3 separate regions of the Homo sapiens genome follow, and regions 1 and 2 are each linked to region 3. The links come from fine-mapping of genetic effects on gene expression. A gene starts in region 3. Each other region holds a variant in brackets. All regions are shown on one strand. Distances are between the middles of the regions. Region 1 overlaps VWA1 (von Willebrand factor A domain containing 1). Region 2 overlaps TAS1R3 (taste 1 receptor member 3). Region 3 holds the start of MRPL20-AS1 (MRPL20 antisense RNA 1).

What was found. PIP is the estimated chance that this variant, and not a neighbour inherited with it, causes the effect.
Region 1: its variant is fine-mapped to the expression of MRPL20-AS1 in putamen (GTEx, PIP 0.98).
Region 2: its variant is fine-mapped to the expression of MRPL20-AS1 in whole blood (INTERVAL, PIP 0.99).

What each region holds. Positions count from the first base shown.
Region 1 is chr1:1,436,804-1,439,551 of GRCh38, reverse strand. VWA1 (von Willebrand factor A domain containing 1) reads right to left here. Exons shown (of 3, transcript NM_022834.5): 2 at 2,068-2,625; 3 at 1-471. Among named protein-coding and RNA genes, the nearest start is that of VWA1, 2.5 kb to the right of the region's middle. The variant C/G (reference allele first, on the strand shown) is at 1,450.
Region 2 is chr1:1,334,202-1,336,949 of GRCh38, reverse strand. It overlaps TAS1R3 (taste 1 receptor member 3), which reads right to left. Exons shown (of 6, transcript NM_152228.3): 6 at 1,636-2,748. The coding sequence ends at 2,486. It overlaps DVL1 (dishevelled segment polarity protein 1), which reads left to right. Exons shown (of 15, transcript NM_001330311.2): 15 at 435-1,672. The coding sequence ends at 808. Among named protein-coding and RNA genes, the nearest start is that of MIR6808, 4.1 kb to the left of the region's middle. The variant C/T (reference allele first, on the strand shown) is at 1,343.
Region 3 is chr1:1,398,056-1,400,803 of GRCh38, reverse strand. MRPL20-AS1 (MRPL20 antisense RNA 1) reads right to left here and starts at 1,274. Exons shown (of 3, transcript NR_015434.1): 1 at 1,115-1,274; 2 at 501-646; 3 at 1-199. It overlaps CCNL2 (cyclin L2), which reads left to right and starts at 1,469. Exons shown (of 11, transcript NM_030937.6): 1 at 1,469-1,785; 2 at 2,133-2,207; 3 at 2,462-2,571. The coding sequence starts at 1,498. RefSeq lists an enhancer at 1-531 and silencers at 917-976, 1,267-1,506, 1,577-1,756.

The DNA of each region.
Region 1 (2,748 bases), 39 kb before region 3:
ACTGCACGTGGTAGCCGAGCGCCGCGGCTGAGCCCAGCGCTGGGGCCCAACTCACGCGGAGGCTGCGCGGCCGGGCGTGGGAGATGACGATGCGCTCTGGCCCGGCCTCCTCTGGGGCGGGGAGGGCGGCGAGCTGCGTGGGGGCCGGCCCAGCCCCCGACTCCGGGCCCGAAGCCCCCGGCCCTGCCTCACCGGGCCGCGTGCGCACCCGCAGGATCTGGGGCCTCAGGAGGCGCACGTTGGACTCAGGCACTAGCGCCACGTCGTAGTCCGTGTCCGGGTCGAGGCCGGCCCAGATCCAGTCCGTGGCGTTCCCTGGCAGCTGCTGGCGTCTTGCAGCCCCCGGCTGGGCGCTGGGCACCAGCTCCAGCACATAGTAGCCCGAGTCTGCGGTCAGCAGGGGTGGCCAGGCCAGGCGGAAGCCGCTGGACGTGATCTCCGTGGCATGGAGCTGCTGCGGCCGCATCGCGTCTGTGGGTGGTGCAGGGGGTCAGGGAACAGCGGTCAGTTCCTCCTCCGCTGCTGGAGGGCGGCCCTGGCTGATGGGGAAGATCTGGAGATTGGAGGCCCCACTAGGAAAGACGGGGCCCCGCGGCCAAGGAGCTGCTGGAGCCATGCCCCGCAGATGCTGGGGATTCTCAGAACGTGCCTTGGCTGGGGGAGGACGGAGGAAAGGGTGCAGCCCCCTCAGGCCCTGTCAGAAGCGCCCCTGCCTCCCTTAGCCCCAAACCCAGTCCTTTGTGGAGAGGTGCAGTGGCCAGATCAGTGACCAGGACAAAGGTCCTCAAAGACGGCAGAGTCCACGGTGGTGCCTGAGAGCAGAGGACCAGCCCCAGCCTGAGTGGCCAGGCCGGGGTCTGAGGTCAGCCCGGCTCTCTGAGCTGCAGCTAGGAGATGGGAGACCACAGGGGCAGGCCCTGGGGTTCTGGAGGCGCTGCCTGCCCTGGGTCCCCAGGAGAGTGTGGGGTGGGGTTCTCCAGAGGGGGACTCCTGGACCTGTGACACCAAGCCCCACATAGCCCTCTGAGTGACCCTGCTGTGGCGAGGCTCATAAATGTCTGCGCTGGGTTAAAGCTATCAGGATCTTCCTCCTGCAGTGCTGGGTGCCTGGGCCACTTTCTTCCCATCCCCCACCCTCAGACCCGGCCTCTTTCCCAGGAGCCCCCACCCTGCTGCCTGGCCCCTCGGCACTGCAGCCTCAGGCTTTTCCTTTGGCTGCTTAAGGCAGCCTTTCCTCCTGGTCCCCTCCAGGCGCAGCTGCACTGGGTGACCTGGGGCCACTAGGGGCCAGACGTCCCTGGGGAAACCTTGGGGAGGGCCGTCCACCCCTCTCCAACCCACAGTCCAACCCCTTCCGGCTCTGGGTGGATGATTAACCCACAGACGGAGACTTGGTGAGATCCCCAGGGTTGGCATTTTTCAGTGGCTGCAGCAGGCTGAGCCAGTGGC[C/G]GGTTCCTCATCTCCAGCCCCAGCTCCTTCAGGGCTTGGCTGGGGCAGGGAGGTCCAGAAAAAAAGCCAATGGGAGCTGCTCAGCTCCTGCCTCAGGCCTTCCCTGGTCCGGCCTCTCAGGAAACCCTCACAGTGGGCCTGCAGTCCGAACTAGTTCAAAGCCCTCGGCGGCTGTCCCCACCCAGGAGAGGTGCCCTGTGCTCTCTGGGGGGGCAGTCCCTGACCTTTCTGGCTCACCCCTCTCCAGGTATGGTGGGCATGCTCAGGAGCACATGCTGCCCATCTGCAGAGTCCCCAGACTTGGAAGCTTCTTCCTGGGCCTACACCCGGGCTCTGCACTCCCTGGGGCCTCGAGGTCTGGGCTGGACACATCAGCAGGGAGCTACACCTGGAGGTGGCTACTCAAGCCTGCCCCCGTCTCAGCAGGGTACACGGGTCGCCCAGTGAAGAGTGTGCATAGACAAGCTGCATCACTCAGCCCTGCACCCTAGGGGTACCACAGCCCCGGAGGCCCTGGCCGCTGCTCTGGGGACATGAGATCTTCCCAAAGTCTCAACCCAGCCTCTCCTTCTGCGGCTCCCAGCTAGGGCTCCCTGGGCCCTGCCTCCTCCCGCATACCGAGAATGGAGCCCCTCAGCTCTTGGACAATGATGTGCAGGTCATCCACGTCCACAAAGTGCAGGTGCTTCTCGGCAGGGGCTGAGGCAGCGGCTGACAGCTCCAGGAAGTTGCCTCGGCCGGTGCTGACAATGAACACGGTGACGCCCAGGTCCTTGAGCTCCTGCATGGGGGGGCCCACAGGGTCGCTGGAGCCGCCATCTGTCACCCACACCAGCACTTTGGGCACCCCTGGCCGGGCACCTGATGCTTCAGCAAACAGCTGTTCCTTGGCATAGACCAGCGCCAGGCCAGTGTGGGTGTCACCCATGCGCTGGGCAGAAGCACGCACCGCATCCTGGGCAGCCTCACCCGAGCTGTGCTGGCCGAAGGGGAACTCGGTGTATGGCCGACTGCCCACGTGCACCAGACTGGCACGCAGGGCCCCGGTGCCCAGGGGCAGTGGAGCCACCAGCTGCCCCACAAACTCCCGAACCCGGGAGAACTCGTAGTGAGAGACGCTGGCTGAGCTGTCCAGCAGGAACATCAGGTCCCCTCGGGGGGCTGATGCTGGTGGACCTGGGGGAAAGGAGGAATGCTCAGCCTCAGGTGTGGGCCCCCCAGACAGCCCCACAGCAAGGCAGGGTCCCCCAGGGCCCCAGCTTTCCTTAAGTGGATGCTTGCCTTCTCCCAAAGGTCCTA
Region 2 (2,748 bases), 64 kb after region 3:
CGTCTTGGGAGCCCAGGACAGGGCTGAGCTGAGTCATCCGTCGGCCAGGGTCCTGGGCCGGGGGGACAGTGGGGCCTTGGGTGGGGAATCCAGGATGGCCACGGGGGCACCGGGCATGAGGGGCCCTCGCTGGCACCTCAGTCTTTCAGCCGCAAGACCAGGCCCTCAGCTCAAGCATCGGGGTGAGGTGTGGGGGCGCCCAGCTTGCCCCAGGACCCTGCCTGCCTCCCACTGCCCCCACCAGCCCATGCCTGCCGCAGCTGCCCCTGCGACCCTGGGGGTGCCGGCCCTGTCCTCGCGCCTGCATGGCTGCCCCACCCACCCGTCCTGCACGGGCCACCGTTCCTGCCCGGTCACCTGGCGGGGGCGGTTGTTCTGGACGTGGCCGGGCCTGGTGCTGACAGGCTCCTTCCCCATCCTGTTCTCACTCCCAGGGAGCAAAAGCAGTGGGTCCACCCGGAGCAGCCGCCGGGCCCCGGGCCGTGAGAAGGAGCGTCGGGCGGCGGGAGCTGGGGGCAGTGGCAGTGAATCGGATCACACGGCACCGAGTGGGGTGGGGAGCAGCTGGCGAGAGCGTCCGGCCGGCCAGCTCAGCCGTGGCAGCAGCCCACGCAGTCAGGCCTCGGCTACCGCCCCGGGGCTCCCCCCGCCCCACCCCACGACCAAGGCCTATACAGTGGTGGGGGGGCCACCCGGGGGACCCCCTGTCCGGGAGCTGGCTGCCGTCCCCCCGGAATTGACAGGCAGCCGCCAGTCCTTCCAGAAGGCTATGGGGAACCCCTGCGAGTTCTTCGTGGACATCATGTGACTCGTGGCGCATGCCCCAGCCCTGCCTGAGGTGGGGAGCTGGCGGTCCTGCCGCATGCAGAGCTCGCGTGGGCTTGCCTTCGTGGGGGCCAGGACGGGAGGCAGGGTGGGGGGCAGGCTGGACCACCACCATCTGCCCTGGCAGCCTGGCTGCTCCAGCTCCTGACAGCACCTGTGTCTGAGCAGCCGTGTTGGGGGCGCTCCCTCTCTGCCCCTCAGCGAGAGCCTCGGACCTCCCAACCCCTTGTGTCTGGTGGGGATCCCTCCTGGGATGAGGAAGACCCCCTCGGGCTCTCGGCTGACCCCCACCTCCTGCACAGCTGTGCCCAGGCCCCCAGGGTGGTCCATGCGGGGCAACCCCCTGCGGTGCACAGGCCCCCTGTCTGGAGTAGGGATCTAATTTATTTATTTATTGCCTGGCCGGTGACTCGGGGGAGGAGGCGACCCTGTCATCTGTCCCACCTGCTGCTGCCCCTTGGAGCAGCCTGCACCTTCTCTCCTCCCATCCGGCAACAGTCTGAAAGTACGTGGAGGA[C/T]GGGACCGGAAGACGAGAGAGGGCTGGACATCCTGCCCACCGTGTCCCAGCCAGGGCAGGGAGGGACCATGGCCCGCAGGGTCAAGGGGCCCCGATGTGCACAGCTGCCACAGGGAGGGAGGTCTTGGGGAGATGGGCAGTCAGGTGGCCCGTCCTTGGTGAGTGCACACACTGCGCGCACACATCGCGGCCTTCCTGGCTTCTCTGGCCCCCACGTGTCTGTGCTGTAGATACTGTATCAAAGTCCCAGCGTTTAGATGGTTAACATAGAGCTGCTTCTGTGTAAATGCTGCTTATTTTAAACACTAAAAAGCGTTTAATTTTATGGGACAGATGTGTGGCCTGTGCCCCTTCTCTCCGGCTGGGCTGCCTTGGAATGAGGCACAGGGAGCTGGTCCAGCCTCCCCTAGGCCCTGCTGGGAGCTGACCCTGGGACTCTGACCGGAGACCCTGTGTGGGCCTGGCGGCGTGCTGGCGTCAGATCCTGGTGGGCAGTTTTCTGTCCATGGTGCTGGCTCCGGGGTCCTGGTGGTCGGTGCTGGCCGTGGTGCTGGACCCCGCCCCCACCCCACCTGGGCTCTGTCCCTGGTACTGGTGACAGTCATGATGCTGTCTACCCACTGGGCAAAGGGCAGAGTAGGAAGCTGGGTGCCACCCCTACCTCGGCGGGCTCTGCCCTGGGCATATGCCTGTGTGCCCCCACCTGGCCTCCCACTGCTGTGGTGCCTGGCAGGGTGCAGGATGGGGGCCCTGGTGGGACATGGTCAGGTCGGCAGGGCCTGATTTGGGCTTCCAGCCATCTGGCCGGGGCCTCCCTGCGTCCTTTTCCTGAGCTCACGGTGTGGGTTGCGGGTACCCTGGGAGCCCTCCGGGCCTCTTTCCAGAACAGTGGGTCTGGGTTACCTGGGCAGGCCTGGTCTGGGCACAGAGGGACAGGGACACAGCTTGGCTCTGGGGCCCAGATGGTCACAGGGGTGTCCACGTGCTCCAGGCCTAGGGCTCACTGTGGGGTCAGGGTCAGGAGACAACCTGGGGTCAGAACCTAGAGCGGGAGGGTCTCTGTAGCGAGACACGGGTCATTGCTGGCTTGGGGGGGATCGCAGCTAAGTCTGGGTTCACCGGGGCTGAGATCACAGGGTTGGGTCACTCATGTTTCCCCTGATTTCCTGTGTTCCCGTCATTCTGGCCTTGGGCATCCCCAGGGCCCCCTCCCAGGAAGAACTCGGGGGTGTTGAGCCCTGGCTGCCGCATGAGCAGGTAACACCTGGGCAGGTGGAAGGCAGCCAGGATGCCCAGGACACAGAGCAGGAGGGCGCCCATCTGCACGGCGGGCCTGAGGACCACCTGCACATTGGCCAGGAGGGGCACAAAGGAGACCCAGGTGATGAAGTAGGCCAGCATGGCAA
Region 3 (2,748 bases):
GCGGTCCCAGGGCCTGCCCCTGATGGGCTGGAGGCACCACCAACCTCCCACTCCTCTGGCAGTCACAGCTCAGGGAATGGGCAAGCAGCACCAATGAGAAACCAGCTGTGTGGTGGGGTTTCCAGAGAAGAGGAAATTCCTTCTTTCCTGGAGAGCGTGCAGCTGTAACTCACAGACGAGACATCCCTGAGCTACCAGCCTGGGGAAAGAGGACATGAGTAAAGCTGTAACCATACCGTGTTACCCATAACAGGCGGTGAGGAGAGTGGGTTTTGGTTGGCACTGTTTGAGCTGCAGTATCAAGTCATGGCAGAGCTAGTGGACAGCTGACCTGGGGGTGGGGGTGAGGAGCAATGGTGGCTTCTGAATTTGAGCCCGTCTGAGCTGGGCAGTTACTGGCAGCTCAGTGTGTGAACCTGCAACCACTCAGGCCTCTGCTGCCCTTCCCTCTTCCTGCCTCACCGTTCCCTGCCCCACGCAGGCTTCCCCACCATCCTCACCCGTGGTCCTGTACTAGTCCTGGCAAAGGTTCCGGTAACTGCAGCAACAGATACCTCCTGCCCCTCCTGCACAGCTGTGGTCGATCGCAGGACAGCCGCAGGTGATGAAAAACCGTGAACCCAGGACGGGCAGGGCGTGAGACCGCCTGCGGGAGGATCAGCGATGTCAAGACGTTACAAACGCACGAACCCCCTCGCCGTCTCCCTGGCGTTTGTGAGGTCCTGTCCAAGCTCCTTCACACGTAGATCACCGGGCCTCGCTCCCCCGACTCCTTCCGTGGGCCTGAACCTTGAGGTACTTAGGCCTCCCCACGCTGGAGGGGCTCTGTAGGGACGTCGAGGCCACGTTTCCAGTCATCCCTCCACCCGTCTCTCCCCAGGGGCTGAGTGTTGAAGGCAAGACTTTGCAGGAGTCTGGCGTTAATACGCATCCCCAAAGTCTGGAGTCGATAAGGACTGAAGACACGACGCCGACGGCGGCCGGGGGACACCGGGCATGCGCGTCTCATCCAGGGGGAGGCCGAGCGGAGCCTCTGACCCTGCCCCGCGCCCAGGGTTCAGCAGTGGGGGTCGTCCCGCCCCAGATCCCACCGAGATGGCCCCCCTTGACCCACAGGCCTTTCGAGACGCGAGCTTCCGCGATCCGGGGTCTCTGTGCGAACGTGGGCATCTTGGAAGAGTCCCAGCCCCGCTCGGGGCGCACAGGCAGGCGCTCTCAGCACGGCACCCGCGCCTCCGCTAGGGACAGACATGCTTCCGGGTCGGCCGGCACCGCGGAGTCCCCTGGGTAACGAGCCCGCCCCACCCGCGCCAGGTTCCGGCGTCGGCGTTAGGCGCGTTGCTGACGGGCAGGTTATGTAGCCAATTGCGGCTAGGCGGCGTCGCGCTGGTCGCGGGCCGAACCAATGGCACGCGACGGGGCGGGGCGGTGGCGGCCGTGGAGCTTCGCGAGGAGCCGCCCTGAGGGAAGAAGCCGAAGGGGAGTCGGCGGCACAAAATGGCGGCGGCGGCGGCGGCGGCTGGTGCTGCAGGGTCGGCAGCTCCCGCGGCAGCGGCCGGCGCCCCGGGATCTGGGGGCGCACCCTCAGGGTCGCAGGGGGTGCTGATCGGGGACAGGCTGTACTCCGGGGTGCTCATCACCTTGGAGAACTGCCTCCTGCCTGACGACAAGCTCCGTTTCACGCCGTCCATGTCGAGCGGCCTCGACACCGACACAGAGACCGACCTCCGCGTGGTGGGCTGCGAGCTCATCCAGGCGGCCGGTATCCTGCTCCGCCTGCCGCAGGTGAGGGCGCGGCCGCGAGCCTCCGGCCCAGGTAACCGCTGGGGCGGCAGCCGCCTTTGTTGGCGGCGAGTCGGGCCCGCACCGCCCCCGCCTAGACCCCGACCCCAGCCCCTGCCCCGACCCCAGCCTCGGCGCCATTCCCTAGCCAGCCCATGCCCCTGACCCGGGGCCTCCCCGCCCGCCAGTGCGCTGGATCCCGAGACGGCGGGACGCGAAGAGCCTTTGTGGACGTGGGAAGCGTTTCAGTGTTTGGTTCTGCGTGGGGAGTCCCACGTTACTCGATGACTTTCGGCCGCGAAGGCTTTGAATGGTGCGTTTGAAAATACGGAAACTTTCTTCTACTCTAGGTGGCCATGGCTACCGGGCAGGTGTTGTTCCAGCGGTTCTTTTATACCAAGTCCTTCGTGAAGCACTCCATGGAGGTAAGGCTTCCTCCTGCACTTCATTCCCAGCGAAGTATGTTGAGGGTAAAACGGTTTGTTACTTTGCCCGGTTACTAAGGGAGTGAGTACTTGCCCCCCAGTCTGAGCTCTGTGCCGGAGGGTTCTGTTTCTTGACTTTTTTTTTCCCCTGGGTGCACCTCCCTTTTGGTCTGAATAGCCCTCAAGCCTTTGGCGGCCGTCAGGACGCCGTGGCTGGGGACAAACATGGGCGTGTTGCAATGCTTCCGCTTCAGCATGTGTCAATGGCCTGTGTCCACCTGGCTTCCAAGATAGAAGAGGCCCCAAGACGCATACGGGACGTCATCAATGTGTTTCACCGCCTTCGACAGCTGAGAGACAAAAAGTGAGTCAGTCAGAGCTGTCTAGTCTATCATAGATGCCTATTTTCTTTATTTCTGATTAAGTTACAGTAAGGCTTGTATAACACAATACAGGCCTGAGGCTCTAAACCTGTGGGATATTCATGAGCGCAGTCTCAAGCTCCACCAACAGAGCCTGCTCAGAGGCATCAGTAGATGCG